Linked DNA regions of Homo sapiens. The main gene of each other region encodes a partner of the protein of the gene in region 2 in a complex. Each region holds a gene or a part of one and is shown on either strand. Other genes may lie near its edges. The genes, in order: RHOA and ARHGEF2.

Region 1 (10,273 bases), on a different chromosome or scaffold from region 2:
CCTCCAGGGAGCTGCATCACCTCTCCCCTCCCTGCAAGTTATTGCATCTGGGTCCCAAGGGGCAACAGCTTCCAGGATGTTCCCTCTCTCACTGCCCCTGTGCATGCACACCCTTGTTCTGTCTGAATAACCACAACAACCGATGCACTTCCGTGTTTAATAAGCCACATCCTCAGTTGAGCCTGGGGTGAAATGTGAGATCCTGACTCTGTGCAGTAGTATTAGTGGGTGGGCCAGGGGCTGTGAATAACATCATCCTCAGTACAGCTGCAATTCCAGGGCCCCTCTACCACAAAGATGGCTTAAGCAAAGGCAGCCAGATGGAAGTATGATATCCAACAGGAAGGAAGTAGGCAGGGGTCACTAAAGTGGCTGGTGGCCCAGCAGATGGAAACAGAAGTATGGCCCCGAGGGAAGGAGGCAGGTCCAGGGCTACAGTGCTTTCAGGTACTGGTGTTTCTATAGGGGCATTTGCCACCCACATCTTTGGAAACTCCCCTGGCCTATTGTGACATGGCAGGGCTGCCTGGTTCTTGAAGGTAGAGAAAATGCTAGTGGGGAGGAGCTGAGCCTGTGACGTGCATTTGTACCAGGTCCAGATGGGAAATGATGAGGCTGCAGGCTATGATGGGGCCACTGTGCACTAAATGCTTGGTACCATCCTATGAGGGGACAAGGTGCAGACCCACATTCCCATAGGCACTTAAGCAGTGGTGGATAGGAGGCTACCCCAGGGGTTCAGCTGTCCTTCAGGTAATCAGCTTACCCCCAAGAAGGACTGAGAGGAATATGAGTAGGACAGTTGGCAGATGACAATTTCCTTTGCCTGGCTCACGGGAGAAGTCTGGTTGGGCCAGGTATGTGGGTGTTTGGTGCCTCCATCTGGATAGTGCCAGCAGGTACACCACCCTGCCTTATACCTGAATGGCCAGCTAAATAACCATAGAGCTTAAGGTCTGGCTCAGGTCAGGATTCCCTGGCTCCTTGCCAACAAAGCAAAACCAGAGATTCAGAAAACTCAGGGCCTAGGAGAAAACAGACCTGCCTTACAAACCCCAGAGCTGGTCAACCTCAGGCTTCCTCTCAGGAAAAAAATTTTTTTTTTGAGATGGGTCTTGCTCTGTTGCCCAGGCTGGAGTACAACGGCGCAATCTTGGCTCACTGCAACCTCTGCCTCCCAGGTTCAAGCAAATCTCCTGCTTCAGCCTCCTGAGTAGCTGGGATTACTGGTGTGTGCCACCACACCCGGCTAATTTTTGTATTTTTAGTAGAGATGGGGTTTTCACCATGTTGGTCAGGCTGGTCTCGAACTCCTGACCTCGTGATCTGCCTGCCTCAGCCTCCCAAAGTGTTGGGATTACAGGCGTGAGCCACCATGCCTGGCCAACTCAGGAAAAATTTTTATGGGGTCACATCTTGGGGATGGAAGAGGGACAGGAAAAGAAACCTAAGACAAAAGAACTGATGGTCTTCCCAACCCAGAGGCTTCCTGAGTTATCACCCCTGAGAGAGGAAGAACACAATCTCTCTCCTTAAGGCACCCAGATAAGAGTACAGGCAAACTCTTCACTTGCCCAGTGCCTGGGTGAGGGAGCAGGCTTAAGAGGCAGAAGAGGCCCAGCCCTGTAGGCACTGGGTACTCCCTGCTACCAACCCTGAACCCCCGGCAGTTGTCCCTGAGGTCTGGGGAGTAGCAGAACCCAGTGTAGAAGCCAGCAGACCCAGTGATGCCCTTGGAGACCCTCTGCTGCCTTCCCTTATTCTCTGTGGGTTTTGAGAGGTTCGTTTGCTGCCATTTCCCTGAAAGTGATGGAGAGAGAGAAGAGAGAGTGGTTATTCCATGGGCAGAACAGTTGCTGAAATTGGCTCTCCCAAGCTCCTTCTTGGGGGCTGAGCTAGGCTCAGTAAGGTCACATAACAATCTAGACCTCTCTGCTGGTCTCCCACAGCCCACCCTGGGCCCAGCACCTTCTCCCTGCAGACTCATTCTTCTTCCTGGTTCTCCATGTTAGTACGGCATTGCCATCCTTCTCTAGTTTTTTTATTCTTTTTATTTATTACTATTGTTATTACTTTTCTTTTTTTGAGACGGAGTTTCACTCTTGTTGCCCAGGTTGGGGTGCAATGGCAAGATCTCAGCTCACTGCAGCCTCCACCTCCCGGGTTCAAGCAATTTTCCTGCCTCAGCCTCCCAAGTAGCTGGGATTACAGGCGCCCGCCACCACACCCAGCTAGTTTTTGTATTTTTAGTGAAGACGGGGTTTCGCCATGTTGGCCAGGCTGGTCTCAAACTCCTGGCCTCAGGTGATCTACCCTCCTCAGTCTCCCAAAGTGCTAGGAACAGGCGTGAGCCACCATGCCCGGCCTGTTATTTTTTTTGAGACAGAGTCTCACTCTGATGCCCAGTCTGGAGTGCAGTGGCGTGATCTGGGCTCACTGCAACCTCTGCCTCCTGGGTTCAAGTGATTCTCATGCCTCAGCCTCCCGAGTAGCTGGGATTACAGGCGTATGCCACCATGCCCAGCTAATTTTTTCTATTTTTAGTAAAGACGGGGTTTCCCTATGTTGGCCAGGCTAGTCTCAAACTCCTGACCTCAAGTGATCCGCCCATCTCAGCCTCCCAAAGTGCTGGGATTACAGGCATGAGCCATGGGGCCTGGCCTCTTCTCTAAGACAGAAACCTGGGCAGTGGCAGCCTTTCTAACCTCTAGCCCTAACTCTTGGACCCCTTTATCTACTTGCCATGAAGTAGGCATTTATAAAGGCAAATTAGATCAGACCACAGCCTTGCTGAGTTAGTCTTTCAATGGCTCCCAGGGTCCAACAAGCTCTCACGTTCAAGCTCCAGCATCACAGTCTTACCTATTCTAATATGTCACCCGTATTCTTCCCTCTTAGCCTTGCTCAATCCATTCCCTTTGCTTGGTACACTTTGTCACCCTGTGGCATTTGATCTCGGCTTAGGTGTCTTTCTTGGGAGAAGCCTTCCCTGACCACCCTTGCCCCATGCACTGCCGCCCTCCCCTAATAAATCCCTGGCTCCCCATGAGCAGGGCCCGGGTTGTCTTTGTTCTCTGGGCCTCGTGTGGCCCCTATCACGTGATAGGGGCCCAGAGATTATCTGAATGAATGCCCTGATTAGTGAGCGCATGTTTTGCAGAAGAGGAGGCTGACCCTGATGAGGTCAATGTGCTCAGGACAGAGATTACTGCCTTCCCAACTGAGGGGATTGTGCAGAGTGGAATCCAACAAACCTGTCATTTCATCTCTCTGAAATTATGACAATACCACCACCTATCCTACAGGCTGCTGAACAGCATGATGATGGACTGTCCAGACCTTGGTGTCACCCTAACTTGAAGCCTGAGCTCTACGTGCAGACTTGAAGCTTGCTGCAAAGGCCATTAAGCTGGTGGGCTTAAAGCCTGAGAACTCCCCTCTCTGTCACCAGCACAGGAGTGTCCTTGGAATGCCAAGCATGGGGTTGCGGTATGGACAGATTTACTCACCACGAAGGGAAATGCGTGGAGCCATCAGGCGTGGATCCATTCTGACCACCCAGACCTGGAGGCAGAAACACATCCAGAGCTGCAGAAGGCTGGGGTGGGAATCTGAGCAGGCATCAGCCCAGGTCAGGTTAGAGACCACTGGTATTGTTTGGTGAAGTCTGGTGAGGGTCCTAAGGGACTAATGGTATTGCCAGGTGAGAGTTCTGAGGAACAGATACAATGTGATGGGTGGACTGGTGGGGATTCTGGCGTAAAATGGTATGGTGGCATGAGTCAGGGCACAACGTTAAGTTCTCCCATCCAAGTACCTGGCTTAGCTTCCGAGGTCAGATGCGTTCAGGGTAGTAAGGCCGTGAACCAATGTTAAGTTCTGATGAGCCTCTTGCAGGATAGTGGGGAACCCAATGGTACAGTCGGGAGAGGGTGGGGGCGGGGGCGGCCAGCCCACGGAGGTTCGTAGGAAGCCTCACCTGGACGGTGATACAACCCGGTCACTGTATTCCCGTAGAACCCCCACGCCAGCTGGATGCCCAGGAGACTTAACACCAACCACAGCAGCAGCAGCTTGAAGAGGGTCACGCGCATGTCCTGCGCCTCCCACTCCCGCAAGAACTCGCTGCCCAGCGCGCCCAGCACCGTGGCCGGCAGAGCCTGCAAGGCCTGCCCAGACCAGGACTCCGCCATGACTGGCCCTCGCCCCACCCGGGGTACTGTCACCGTAGTCCCCACCACGCACGCGTGTGGTCTTCCGGGACCAGGCCCGTTAGTGCGCACGCGTAAACCCAGCCAGGGTGGGGCCTACTTCGCGTGCGTGAAGAGTTGGCAGTTCGGGGAGGAGTATTAAAACCGCGCACGCGCACCTAACCCCACCCTGCTTGCTTAAGGGATGAGTGACTCCGGGAGTACAAAATAGCAACCAGGTCTTTTATAGCCCCGGAGTTCCCGTGATGCCCCACGCGGCTGCAATGATTGGTTAAGGGTTTTGCTTTTAGGGCGTGGACGGGCTCCTGAGCAATAGTGGATGAGCTGTGAGTGCGCGCGCGTGCGCGGGGCCGCGACCTGTGCCGGCTCGAGCCCGCTGGGCACTCGGAGGCGCGCACGTCGTTCCCCGCCCTCCCGCCGCCGCCCGCCCTCGCTCTCTCGCGCTACCCTCCCGCCGCCCGCGGTCCTCCGTCGGTTCTCTCGTTAGTCCACGGTCTGGTCTTCAGCTACCCGCCTTCGTCTCCGAGTTTGCGACTCGCGGACCGGCGTCCCCGGCGCGAAGAGGCTGGACTCGGATTCGTTGCCTGAGGTGAGCGGAAGGGTTCCCTCCAGGCGCCGCGGGGCCCCAGGCCCGCCAGCCCGGTACTCTTCCGGCCGGCAGGCCGCCGCACCGCCGCGGCCGCGCCCCACCGGCTGCTCGTGGCCGAGCCGCCCCTGGCCCCTGACCCTTGACCTGACTCCCAGCCCGGGCCCCGCGCCCCAAGCGGCGACCCCGCCCGCGCAGTCCCCGGAAGCGCGCCCGGTAGTCTCCTGTGCCCCTTCCCCCGCCCGGCCGGGCCTGGTGGAGCCCAGGCTGCCCGCCTGCCCGCCCTCGGTCCCCGGAGCTTCCTCTCCCAGCGGCGCCGGGCAGGGCGGGGGCTTTGGGCCGGGCCCCGCGACCGCGCAGTGTAGCCGGCCGCTGAAAGCGCGCGTGGCTGTCGGAGTTGAAATGGGAAAGAAACTCTTTACAACTCCATTTTGCTTTTTACGTTTAACGAGAAACGACAATCACTGTTTCATATTGATTAAAGTCCAGTTACACTTTGGGTAGGTTTTCTTTTAATGCAGACTTGTTGGAGACTGTGTAAGTAAGTAAAAGATTGTATTGAACGCTTAGGGGTATGATCTACGGCCATACCACCTGGAACGCGCCCGAACTCGTCTGAAAGCTTTGGGGTCTGTTTTGAGTGGAAAAGGGGTATTTTCCATTTGGAAAAAAAAAACAACACACAAAACTGTAAATGATTTAAGCGATGTTGCATGAAAATAGATGCAATGTTGCTTAGTCGAAGTCGCTGTATTGATTAGGAATGATCTAAATATCTGTACCTTAGTTACTGATTGGATCTACAGTTACGGGTCGTCTTCATTGAATAGCGCTATTCGCATCCAAGTTGATTTGTTCACAAACCTTGTTTAGTAGTTTACGGTGGAAAATTGGAATCCTTTTTACCTCAAAGTTGGTTCCACTTGTGTTTTTTAATAGTTCTGATTTTAAATTTTTACCTCTGTTGTTGACTTGTTTGGTTCTGTCTTGAAGAAAGTCTTAAACGTTTCTTGCAGGTGTGTAAGTAGATATTTCACTCTGCCTTTCTGAAGGAGAAAAATTGAAAAACCAAAAAACTTCCATAATTTAAAATGTTGTATGTGGAGAGAATTTTTCAACCACTTAGTATCACCCAGATGTGTAATGTGTACCATGCGGATGATTGTCACCTTAGATGTGGCTAGATTGGCGGAGATACTGTTTTGAGCATTTGGCACAAGTGACATTGGACTGAAAAACTAGTTTTTAATTGTAAAGAATGACTTATTGAAGGATCTCTGGATAACTTGTCTTAATTGGTTCCATCTACTTTTGTGGAGCACTGATGGCTCTTGGGGACATTAAATATATAAGGTGCACCTTGGTTTGAGTTAAAGTCTAGTGCTAGATTTATCCTCTCTGTTCTCATAAAAATCTGTGTTGGAGGGAAGAAGAGAGTAGGAATACTGTGTAGTTCTTGAGTTTTAGATCTAAGAGGAATCTTTCAGGACTGGTTGTCCAACCCCATTTGCAGATGAGCAAACTGAGTCCCAGAGACTTAAGTAAATTTCCCAAGGTTACCTATCTAGTCAGGAGCAGACCAGAACTGTCTGCTCTGTTAAGGTATTCTCCATTTACTCCCAAGCAGTTGGCCTCCAGAGTCAGCTAAAATTCAGGACTTCTAGCTTATTCCATTGTTTCTTCTTTTAAACCTTGTTGATGGTGAATAGTTTGGGAGAAACTGTTCATTTGCCAAAAAATTTCGGTTCATTAGCTTACACAGCACTCTCCCCTTGTTAACTGGATGGTCCTGCCTTCAATTGAGGGAGATAGATGAATGTACGAGGGTCCCTGGTTGGCCTAATCATGGCTTTGTTTGGATTTTTTTTTAAGGGACCAACTTCTAGAGCAAGGCCTACACTTTACTGCTTCAAAACCAAGATATTTAGGTCAGGCTAAGATATTTTTAGTTAACTGTGGGCACTTTTGACTGTTGATTTGGGGTACTGCGTGTATCAAGTAAACAATTCCCTGTGCACATGCATGTGGTGGTGGTGGAGTATTTTCGTAGTCCTGATTTCTTTCCATTTGTCAGTTAACTGCTTTTTAAAAGTTTATTCTGGTCATATGGGGGTGTAAGTTATTAGGAGAGTAAAAACAGGTAGCTCTTCAGGTGTTTCTTGTCCATGGGGTGGAGTCCATGCAGTGACTGGAGAAGGTGCTAGTTTGCGTCTTTTTAATTGTCTTAGAGAGCTGAGAGATATATGTTAACTCTGAGAAGAAAGACTGATCAGCTTCTAAGAGAGCTAATTTGAAGCTGCTGGCCTTCTGTAGACAGCACCTTGGGTTTAATTGCATTGTGGTTACTAGTGATTATGATAAATAGTACATAGTCACTGGATTTTAAAATTGGCCATATAGTTGTAGTTTTATATTTATTTTTATTTTTGAAATGGAGTCTCACTCTGTTGCCCAGGCTGGAGTGCAGTGGCGCGATCTCAGCTCACTGCACCGTCTGCCTCCTGGGTTCAAGTGATTCTCCTGCCTCGGCCCCTGGAGTAGCTGGGACTACAGGCACCCACCACCATTCCTGGCTAACTTTTGTATTTTTAGTAGAGATGGGGTTTCACCGTGTTGGCCAGGCTGGTCTTGAACTCCTGACCTCAGGTGATCCGCCTGCCTTGGCCTCCCAAAGTGCTGGGATTACAAGGGTGAGCCACCACGCCCACCCATATTTGTAGTTTTAAAAGGATCCTGGCAGGGCGCGGTGGTTCATGCCTGTAATCCCAGCACTTTGGGAGGCCGAGGCGGGCGGATCACGAGGTCTGGAGACCATCCTGGCTAACACGGTGAAACCCCGTCTCTACTAAAAATACAAAAAAAATTAGCTGGGTGTGGTGGCGGGCGCCTGTAGTCCCAGCTGCTCTGGAGGCTGAGGCAGGGGAATGGCGTGAACCCGAGAGGCGGAGCTTGCCGTGAGCTGAGATCGCGCCACTGTGCTCCAGCCAGGGCAACAGAGCGAGACTCCGTCTCAAAAAAAAAAAAAAAGGATCTTAAGTATTTTGTCTGACTCTGCCATTTAGTTTATTCCTTTGTTTACCTGCCCAATGGAACTGTTTGCTTGTAACTACACATTAATATAACTAAATTTTGAACTTAATGTTACATGCCTTGCTATACATGGGGCTCTTTGGGGACATGCTCATTTGTGGGATTAAAATTTCCAAGACGGTTTGAAGTTTGTAATTACTATAAAATCCCTCATCTTTAATCTGTGGAGCTGTAGTATTAAGTGAAGGCCTTGGTATGTTCATAATTACGATAGTCATGTGACTGAAAATCAGGCACTGAAGCTGCTCGTTCTGGGTGTTGGTCTCAGTTTATTGATGCTTCATCCAAATACATTTTTATAGCTAATAATAAAGAAAAACATCAAATACTCTTGCTAAATTGCAATCAGTATGCAGTTTATGCCAAACTTAGCTTGATTTTATTTTTTGAAGAGGATGAGTATGTATATTTAAGCATATGTGTGTGTGTGTATATGTATATATACTTGTGTATACGTATATACGTGTATACGTATATATATGTGTACATATACGTGTATACGTATATATATGTGTACATATACGTGTGTGTATGTGTGTGTGTATATATATATATTTTTTTTTTTTTCTCTTTTGAGACTGAGTCTCACTCTGTCGTCCGGGCCAGAGTGCAGTAGCGCCATCTCGGCTCACTGCAACCGCCGCCTCCTAGTTCAAGTGATTCTTGTGCCTCGGCCTCTGGAGTAGTTGGGAGTACCAGCATGCGCCACTGTGCTCAGCTAATTTTTGTATTTTTAGTAGAGACGGGGTTTCACCATGTTGGTCAGGCTGTTCTCGAACTCCTGGCCTTGTGATCTGCCCCCCTTGGCCTCTGAAAGTGTTGAGATTGCAGGTGAGAGCCACTATGTCTGGCCATATTTAAGCATATTTATGATAGTATCTTAAATTTAAGTGAAGGGAAAGAGGAAAACATACACAGCCAATGAAGTAAGTTTGAAGTGGAGTGAAAGGAAAAGTTGGAGGTAAAAAGAGGTTAGAGAGGTGGGCAGGGGCCAAATCATATAGGGCCTTTAGGACATGGGAAATTCTTTGGATTTGTTCTGAGATTAGAAGTCATTTAGATATTCTTTAGAAAGGGAATGACATGATCTGATATTAAAAAAAAAACTAGAATCACTGTGAGTAGGAGTAGATCTAATTCCATTCTGACTAAATAGTAAACTAATATGATAATTTGGACAAATATAAAAAGGAATTCCTGGCTGGGAGCAGTGGCTGATGCCTGTAATCCCAGCACTTTGGAAGTGCTGGGCAGGTGGATCACTTGAGGTCAGGAGTTTGAGACCAGCCTGGCCACATGGTGAAACCCTGTCTCTACTAAAAATACAAAACATTAGCTGGGCGTGGCAGCAGGCGCCTATAATCCCGGCTATTCAGGAGGCTGAGATAGGAGAATCACTTTAACCTGGGAGGCGGAGGTTGCTGTGAGCAGAGATCGAGCCATTGCACTCCAGCCTGGGAGACGGTGCAAGACTCAAAAAAAAAAAAAAAAAAAAAAAAACGGAAAGGATTTCATAATATTAATTTCCTTGACTTAGTGACTTCTGCCTATTTTATTTGAAGTCATTGGTTCTTCTCTTCTCTTCTCTTGAGACAGGGTCTCACTGTCACCCAGGCTGGAGTGCAGTGAGTGATCTTTGTTCACTTCAACCTTTGTTTCCCAGGTTCAAGCGATTCTCGTGCCTCAGTCTCTAGAGTAGCTGGGACTACAGGTGTGTGTGTGTGACCATGCCCGACTAATTTTTGTATTTTTAGTAAAGACGGGATCTCACCATGTTGGCCAGGATGGCCTTGATCTCTTGACCTCGTGACCCCGTGACCCACCCACCTTGGCCTCCCAAGGTGTTGGGATTACAAGCATGAGCCACTAAGGATTTGTTTTTAAAATTTTTTTGCTTTATTTTTTTCTTCTCTTTTTTTGTACTAGAGATGGTGTCTTGCTATGTTGCCCAGACAGATCTTGTACTCCTGGGCTCAAGTTGTCCTCCTGCCTCAGCCTCCCAAAGTGCTGGGATTAAAGATGTGAGTCAAGCGATTCTCGTGCCTCAACCTACCCACTAGCTCGATTACAGGTGCCATCCACCACCTGCCCACCACCCTTGGCTAATTTTTGTATTTTGTATTTTAGTAGAGACAAGAATTTTACCATGTCGGCCAGGCTGGTCTCAAATTCCTGACCTCAGGCAATCCACCCGCCTCAGCTTCCTGCTGGGATTACGGGCGTGAGCTACCCTGGCCAAGATTTTTAATTTCTGAAGCTTATAGCTGCTCTAAAGCACAAGGATTCAGTCCCATGATTTAAAAAAGTTGCTTGTTTTGACTTCAAGTATATGGTTGAGCATTCTAACTTTTGTTATGTATACATTTTTATTTTACTGTATTCTTCT
Region 2 (7,876 bases):
AGCCACCAGGAGGACCCCCCATTCTTCCACTCTCCTCCAACACCGTCAGCCCTCTCAGCTCCCTCCTGGGCTCCCCCAGCTCTCCTCTCCACTGCACTCCTAGTCCTGCACACAAAGCCAGCCACCTCTCCATTCCTCAGAACAAAGAAATAGTCGCTCTGCACACTCCCCACTCCACCTGCCCACCACAGAGATTCCAAGGGGACCCCCAGCCTCCACAGCCATCCCTGGACCTCTGGTCCCTGCTTGGCAGAAAAGGACCCTTTGTTCTAAGGGATATGATGGTTGGGGTTTGGGAAAGGAGAAAGGGAAGAACAGGGGACTAAAGAGAGAAAGGGGACCTGTGAGGTTTGGGGCTTGTGGAGGTAGGAAGTAGAGCAGAGAGAACAGAGGAGGTGGAGGACTGAAGACAGCCTGGGAGAACAGAAATGGAGTGAAAAGAAAAAGGAAGCATGGAGGGGGCTACACAGAGAGATCCTGTGAGGATGGGACAGAGAAAGGGGCAGGTTAAACTTACATTCCTCCTCCTAGGAGGAGCTCCCAGGGAATGAGGCAAGGAATGGGGAGGGGCTGAGGTGTCAGGGCTTAGCTGTGACCCATCCCCCCAAGGAGGTAGCAGGGGACACCATCTTCTTCAAATAATGTCTTTTCCAGCGGGTGCCCCTCTACTTCCCACCACAGTATAAAAAGAAAGGAGACAGCTGGTGTGCTGGGGGGAGGGGGAGAGGGGATCCAGGGTTTGTTGGCTAAGAACCAACTCCCCCTTCTGTAACCACAGTTTTCCGGAGGTGGCCCTCCCCTTCCGACCGGCCCAAACTGACAACCACCCTTCTCCGGTGGCCTCTTTGCCCTCTCAGATCCACCCACTCAGCCCCCGACTCCCTGCTGCCAGCCAGATTCCCAAATTACCTGCCCCACACAGCCAGCCCCCATAGTAGAAAGAAGAGCCAGTCCCCCCACCACCAAAAACAAAAACAAAAACAGAGCATGAACACCCAGATGTCTGACGTCCCAGCTCCCCACAATAATGGAAAAGGGATCCCAGTAGCTACCTGCCCCCACAGAACCGCTCTCTATACCCCCTAGCCAGGTCTTCCCCCAACCAGCTCCCCCATGGCTTTCCTTTTTAGGGTGGAACCAAATTTCTGCGGTTTCAAAAAACCTCCCCCGCCCCCCTTGGCTCTACTCCAGGGTCTCAGCTCAAACGGTTGAAAAAATAAACAGACTTTTGGAGCTGGGGCCTGGGCTGGCGCAGGCTGTGAAGAGCCTGTCTGCCACCCCACTGTTCCACCACACTTCAGCCACCTCACCCCGGCCCTCTGTTTGTCTTAGGCCCTACTCGAATCCCCAGTTGCTTTCCAGATAGCAAAATCTAATCCCAACCCCCTAAGGAAAGTCCTTTTAAAGCTGCTTTCCCTGGCCCTCCACCCCCAACCCAGGATGGAACCTCTGTCTCTCCCAGTTTAGCATCAAGACAGGTAGCCTGGCTAGGAACTACCAGGGAGGTGGAGGGGAGGGCTTTCCATCACCCTTAAGGACTCCTAAGGGGTACTGCTCCCTTGGCTGAAGTTGGTGATCAGCATAGGCTGGCACCAGGGTAGTAGGGCACTCAGGTTGGAGAGAAGCCAGAGATTAAACCAACTCTGGGCTGGGACCTGTCCTTTCTGATAATGGGTACAGTGCGGGGGCCCCAAAGGAGCTGGGAGGTGCTGTCTGCAGGCACCACCTTCCTTTCAGCTCTGACTTATTCACCTGCAAGTCAGCTTCATCATTTCCTGGGGTCTGGGTGTGGAAAGGTCAGGGCACTTGGGAATGGGGCTGGGTACAAAGGCAGGGATAAAGGGTACTTGGAGAGGAGTGGCCAAGAGGTCATGATGGGGGAGGCGTGTGGATAATTATACACCCAGACTCATGAAATGCTAGGTGAAGGGACCCCAAGACGAGCAGATAAGAGAATGAGAGCGCTGGGGGAGGAGGAGGAAGGGCAGGGAACACAATGCATAGTGCCAGGTGTGTCAGCCTAAGGGTTTCAGGTTGGGAGAAGGAAGAGCTAGGAGGCTGGCGGGGCAGATAGGGATGGAGGCCCTATGTTCCAGGCAGAAGGGCTCAGGATGGAGGAAAGGAGCCCAGCTACACAAAGACCTCTGCTCCCTTCACCTAGAGGTGATGGTTTGGGGGAAGTAAGCCGTCCCTCGGCCGTCCCGACCCCAGCCACCCGCCCACCCAGAGGGGAGAACTGAATCACAGCTGGAAAGTCCATTTGCGAGGAGAGGAGGAGCTGACTTTTGTCTTGGAGGGGTGGTGGTGGTGGTGGGAGGAAGCCGGGAAACCACCCCCTCCCGTCCCCTCCGCCGGATGGCGGGGACAAAGGGGGAACGACCAAGCCAGCGATTGGGGAGTGATGGGGGGTCGCCACGCCAAGCCCAAGCCGGTGGGGCCCGGGGTGAGAGGAGGTGCCGGAGCTTCCACCGCCCCCACCCGCGAGACACACACCTCCCTCTTCCCGCTCCGTCCCTTACCGGAGCAACTTTCTTTCAAGCGGCCTAAAGCACTCGGTCCCGCCGGCTTGGAGGCGACCAAGCCCAGGTCCGCTCCGCTCCCTCCCGGGATCCCAGCACCGTCGCGTCTGCCGCTCCCCCCACCCCTACCCACTCGCTCGCAGTCCCCACCCACCCCGTCCCGCCGCTCGCCGATCCACCGCTCCGCCCGATTTTGGCGCCCAGAAAGCAGGCGGGGAGACAGGAGATGCACCGCGGGTGCCGGGGTTCGGGGAGCACCCGAGGACCGCGGCGAAAGGAGAGGGGTTTCCGAGCCCACCTTGCTCGCCAGCTCTCTGCTCCGGTCGATCCGCGCCCGCGTGAGGGATTCGATCCGAGACATAATCGGACGGGGGGACCAGGGAGGACGCGGCGCGGACCCCGGCGTCCTGTATTGTTGGGGGAAGGCGGGGGGAGGGGTTCGGCCCGCACGCGTTGGTCTCGGGGACAGGAAGTCTGACTCCCCTCGCCCGGCACCCAGCACCAGTTCCTCAAACCCGAGTCTCCTCCCCCGCCCAAGCTCAGGAAGGGGGTAGGCGGAGCGGAGGGAGGGCGGGGTGCCCGCGCGCAGGACGGGACGCCAGGGTTTGTGTGGGGGCAGCTCGGAGAGGTACGAGGGTCCTAGGACAGGTTTGAGAGGCCCCTCTGCCTATTTCCCCTCCAGCGCCTGGGGGCGCCCTCTAGCCCCAGAGACCCGCCTCTTAGCTCTTCTTTTCCTAAAACCCAGCCCCGCAGCCCTCGCCGGACCCAGGTTGGCCCTTTCCCCTCTGCCCTCCCCTTCTTCCCTTCTCCCCTCGCCCTCCCTTTTTCCCTCCCCTACTGCGTTACCTCAGTCTTTAAAGACCCGCAGGCAGGAGAATTCCATCCGCCCCCAGCTCTTAGAAAACCCAGGACCAGTTCCTTCCTGGCCTTCGGGGTCCCATCAAAGCAGGCCTGAGCAGACTGACCCCTTTTACGATTGGGGGCAGGGGTGGCCAGAGGGAGAGGAAATCAAAGGAGAACTAAACGCTGGATCTTCAGTACACGGGAAGGGTAGGATTCACTCCCAGAGGTCGAAGAACAGAGAGGAGAGAATTCTCCCACATGCCCCACCCTTCTGGGGCCTTCCTGACCCCACTCTGCCCTCCTCCTAGCTCCGCCTCTGCCAGCTACTTTGGGGGACTAGGTTGGGATTCTCCACTTTTACCGAAGGCCTTCCATGTGTCTAACTGCAGTTCTCTCTGTTGCAAGTTAAGCCGGAACTGAAAGACCAGAAACCAGCCTGCCCTAGTCAAAGAAAGTTAGGGCCCAACCAGCCTCTCCCCAAGAAGCAGGGTAAGGTGGGGCATTCATCTCTCTGGACCCTTTTCCCCAGCCTGAGCCAGCCTTTGGGTGAGTTTCCTGCTATTGGGAAAATTCCTCCTCCAGTCTAACTATGATCACTTACAGTGAAGTTCATTTCTGCCTCTCAGGGTCTCCCATTTCTCTGGAGAAACCAGAAGCACAGAGAGGCCTGGGACAGAGCCTTCGGTTAGCAGGGTCCTGCCTGATTCTGGCCCCAAAGGGCGTGGGAGAAGAAGGGAGGGAGGGGAGACCCAACCCAGATCCAGCAGTTCTCTGCCCTGGCTCAGCAGTGGGGCCAGGCTGCAGGTTTCAAGCCCAACTCAGCACTCTTGTAGGTGCCAATTTTAGCCTCTGCCACTATTTTTGGGCTCCACTACCTCACCACTGGCTGAGCTGGTTGGGCTCCTCACCCCCAGCACTACCCCCACACTGCCCCTCCGGCTTCCCCTCCTTCCTAGCAACTCCTTCACCTCCTTCTTCACCCATTCCCCTGTTTAGAATCCTTAAATAGCAAAGACCAGGAAAAAGGAAGAGGAAATAAACCGTGCCCAGTTCAGGCTGGATGGACATTAGAAAGCAGGAAGGACTTCCCCAGGGCCACAGCTTGTTCTTCCTGGCTTGCACCTGCCAAGTATACCTACGGGGAGGGTGTAGGAACTCCCCCAAACCAAGAGGCCTGAGGCTCCTGGCCCCAGAACTCCAGACTCACCTCCCCTGAGGTGGGCAGCCAAGACTCAGGAATGTACTAAATTTAAAAACAGACAGCCAGAGGCTAGAATCTTGGCCTCAAGGTTCCACCCACTGGAGGCCCAGAGACAAGATCTGGGGTGGGACCTCAGCTTCTCTCCCAGGCCTGGGGCAGGAGGGTGCTGCAAGCTATGGATAGAATCTTAAAGGGCCACACTCCAGCCTGGGTACCCAGGAAACATAGAATTTGAACCCTGGGGTTTTTCAAGCGACCTCATGGTCCCTCAACTCAACTAAGAAGGTCTCTATGAAAGAAGAGGACCCGACCCTCCAACTCTTTTCTGTCTCCCACCCCAACCTTCAGTCTACTTTCCATCCCACCTGCTGTTACCCTACCCCTCACCCTATGCCCTCTTCTTCCCCTTAGGAGATGAATAACAAGGAAAGGGACTAGGGACAGGGAAAAGAAAAGTGTTCTGCCTTTAAAAACACCTGTGTTTAGTGAGCTTGGCCTGCAGCTTGACTCAGTTTCCGTTTTCTATATCCTCTTGAACAATGAACACTTTTCCCTTCTCCTTGGTGTCACCTGCCCCCCTTTTCCAAGACCCTTCTTCATTCCAGCGCCCCCTCTACTCCTATCCAGTGATATCTTCCAGATTTTCAGAAATAATTTTTTAGATACACAGAAACAAACATTTCTACCAGGATCTAAAAATAGCCATCACCTTCTTTAGCCCATTTAACTTGACGAAATGTGTCCCTCCCATTTCAGGGGTAGGGAGGAGGTCCCAGGGAAGAACCTGGTTGCCAAAGTCTCGGCCAGTTGGAGAAGAGATGGGTCTCCCGAGGATACCCAAGCCCAAGCTCTACACTGTCCCAAGGTGGTTTGTTTTTCTTCTTTCTTCTATTGGTCTGGACCTTGTATATTCTGGGAGGAGGTGATTAAGGCCAAATTGCCTTAAGTGGCCATCCAGCCAGAAGCTGGAAGAAGGGAAGGATGAGAGGGAATGAACTGTTGTGTTACGGCTATTGAGAGAAACAGTGGCAATACACAGCCAAAGCCCTGAGTTTCTAATACGGCGCCACCTCTTATGAGCTGTGAGATCTTGGGCAAAGTAACTAACCTTTAAGTATTTGTCTGTAGAATTGAGATTGAAATACTTATCTTTGCCAGAATTGTTATAAGAATTAAATGAGTTGAAAGTGTTTCATCAAGTGTGCAATGCTACTCAAGTAGGAGGGACTAAGCTACTTCCTTCTCTCACTGCTTGACTGAGCTTCTCTCCAGCCCCACCCCCTGATGTTTACTGCTTATGGAGAAAGAGATTAAGTGAAGCAGGCCCACACATTCATGAAGGTGGAAGGAAGATGTAGCAGGAGATGGTGGAGAGGGAAACAGAGGAAGACAGGATGACAGACGTGGGGAGGAAAGGCTGAGCGAGGCAATGTCCTGACTCACTCTGGCGCTTCCCTCTTTCCCATCTGGGCTCCAGAGTCTCTGCCCTCATTCCCCTTCACCAGGTTGCTCAACCCTCCATCAGACTGTTAGGTCAAGGGTGGACAAACAGACCAACCGGGATCTGGATGGCCCCTGGGCAGTACTGACTTCCCCTACCATTCCCATGGCAAGAAAAGGGAGTGATTCCACTAGCAGACTCCCCTACCCTGCAGTGAGACAGCCTGTAGGAAGGTGAGACTCAGACCCCAAGGTTTCTGCTTTTGCTTTGTTCCTTCGAGATCTCCATTCCCCCATGGGAGAGAAACCTCTCTGTCCCACCTGCCCTCCCCTCCCATCAGCTTTCAGATTCTCCAGCTGCTCCTCTTCTGAGACTCACCCAGTCTCATGCCTCCATTAGCCTCAACTCCCGACCCATGGCCTGTGGTGAGAGGTGCTAACAACATGACCTGCTTTCATCTTGACCTTCCCAGCCCACCCAGAGAAAAGGGAATCTTGGCTAAAAAAAGGCTGGAAGAGGGGAGAACCCTGGCACTGCGGGTGGGGCTGGGAGGAGCCCAGGCAACCTTACTGGTGAGAATCTCATGGCTCTTCAAGGTGAATATGATGATGATTTCCCTGGGGTTTCTTTCAATACTCAGAAGCCGCCCCGAGTTGGAAAGCACATGCATACTTGGGGAGGCCAGGGGAGGAAAAGGGGGGCGGCTCACTCTGACAGTAAATGAAGAAAGTGGAAACAAATTCAAGGAGCAGGCAGAGCTCCCGGTTTCACCAGAGCCCAACGGTTGGTAATAAGGATGAGAACAATGTGCCTTCACTTCCTGGGATCAGAACAGCACATGGCCGCACATGTACGGGTATGCATGTGCTTCCATAATCATATACTTTCCCAGCTTCTACTCTGCCTGTGGTCTAATTTCAACTCCTTCAGCTGCTGTACCCACCCATAAAATTATGAGTGTAAAAGCACTTTGCAAACCCTGATACTCTATGAAGAAGTAAAAAGTAGTGCTGTAATTATTATCATTATTATGTCCAATGGTTGAGGTTTCCGCTGCCCACCTGTCAGCTATGTGAGGCCTAAAGAGAGGGAGGGCTAGGCCATTCCTCAGCTTCTGAGGTTCCTGGCCCTTTTCCCCTTCCATCTGTCCACAGCTGACTGCTAAGCTGGATGCGTAGGGGAAAGCAGAGAAAAGGTGATTTACTGGGACACAGAGACACAGGCTGGAAGAGATAGCATGTGTTTCCTTAAAATTTGAAGCATTTGGCTGGGCACAGTGGCTCACACCTGTAATCCCTGCACTTTGGGAGGTAAAGGCAAGAGGATTTCCTGGGCCCAAGAGTTAGAGGCTGCAGTGAGCTATGATTGTGCCATTGTACTCCAGCCTGGGAGACAGAAACCCCCTCTCTTAAAAAAATAAAAAAATAAAAAATGGAACCATTGCTCTGAGTTTCTAATAGGGGGAGTGGTGGGAGGTGGCGATGGTGGGATGGGAGAAAGGGAACTGGAGAGGGCAGTGGGTCCCAAGCCTCCTGCTTCCCCAGCTGACTCCTACCTTGGCCTTTCCGGTCATGCCCGAGAGGAAGCTGAAGGTCTGTCGCAGGGAGGAGCCTACCCGGGTACCTGAATGTCCTTCCAGCTGGCTGCAGCTGCATAGAGAAAAAGAAGACATGAGGAGATGGAGGTAATGCTGGAAATGAAGAAAAAGATAACTTCCTGAGAGATGGTGGATGAAGGTGCCATGACCAGCAGAGCCAGAATGGGAAGGAAGAAAGAGGAAGGATTGGGAGAGAAAGATAAGCCCCCATCCTGACCTCCTAGGACTTCCTGGATGTGGGCATTTCAGTTTCCCAGGCCCCTCTATTTAGGAAG

Evidence for each region.
Region 1: the proteins of ARHGEF2 (region 2) and RHOA are in contact, whole or in part, in a crystal structure (PDB 7G9I), measured with the Homo sapiens proteins. Residues at the interface, in NP_001155855.1 of Homo sapiens: Asp215, Ser216, Ser218, Leu219, Asp238, Val239, Glu242, Thr246, His249, Cys342, His345, Ser346, Leu349, Lys353, Lys376, Arg377, Gln381, Glu382, Leu385, Leu386, Thr388, Gln389, Ile391, Thr392, Lys393, Leu396, Leu397, Arg400, Lys423, Leu426; in NP_001300870.1 of Homo sapiens: Arg5, Lys7, Lys27, Gln29, Val33, Tyr34, Val35, Pro36, Thr37, Val38, Phe39, Glu40, Asn41, Tyr42, Val43, Asp45, Glu54, Trp58, Asp59, Ala61, Gly62, Gln63, Tyr66, Asp67, Arg68, Leu69, Leu72, Ser73, Pro75, Asp76.

What each region holds. Positions count from the first base shown.
Region 1 is NC_000003.12:49,406,347-49,416,619, reverse strand, and holds the start of RHOA (transforming protein RhoA isoform 1 precursor), read left to right. Parts: upstream 1-4,643; 5' UTR 4,644-4,800; intron 4,801-9,813; exon of another isoform or gene 9,814-9,908; intron 9,909-10,273. Other genes in the region: TCTA (T-cell leukemia translocation-altered gene protein), read right to left, coding at 1,758-1,800, 3,510-3,564, 3,980-4,193. UniProt on the Homo sapiens protein: Small GTPase which cycles between an active GTP-bound and an inactive GDP-bound state.
Region 2 is NC_000001.11:155,975,548-155,983,423, forward strand, and holds the start of ARHGEF2 (rho guanine nucleotide exchange factor 2), read right to left. Parts: upstream 3,001-7,876; 5' UTR 2,881-3,000; coding exon 2,818-2,880; intron 2,629-2,817; exon of another isoform or gene 2,520-2,628; intron 1-2,519. UniProt on the Homo sapiens protein: Activates Rho-GTPases by promoting the exchange of GDP for GTP.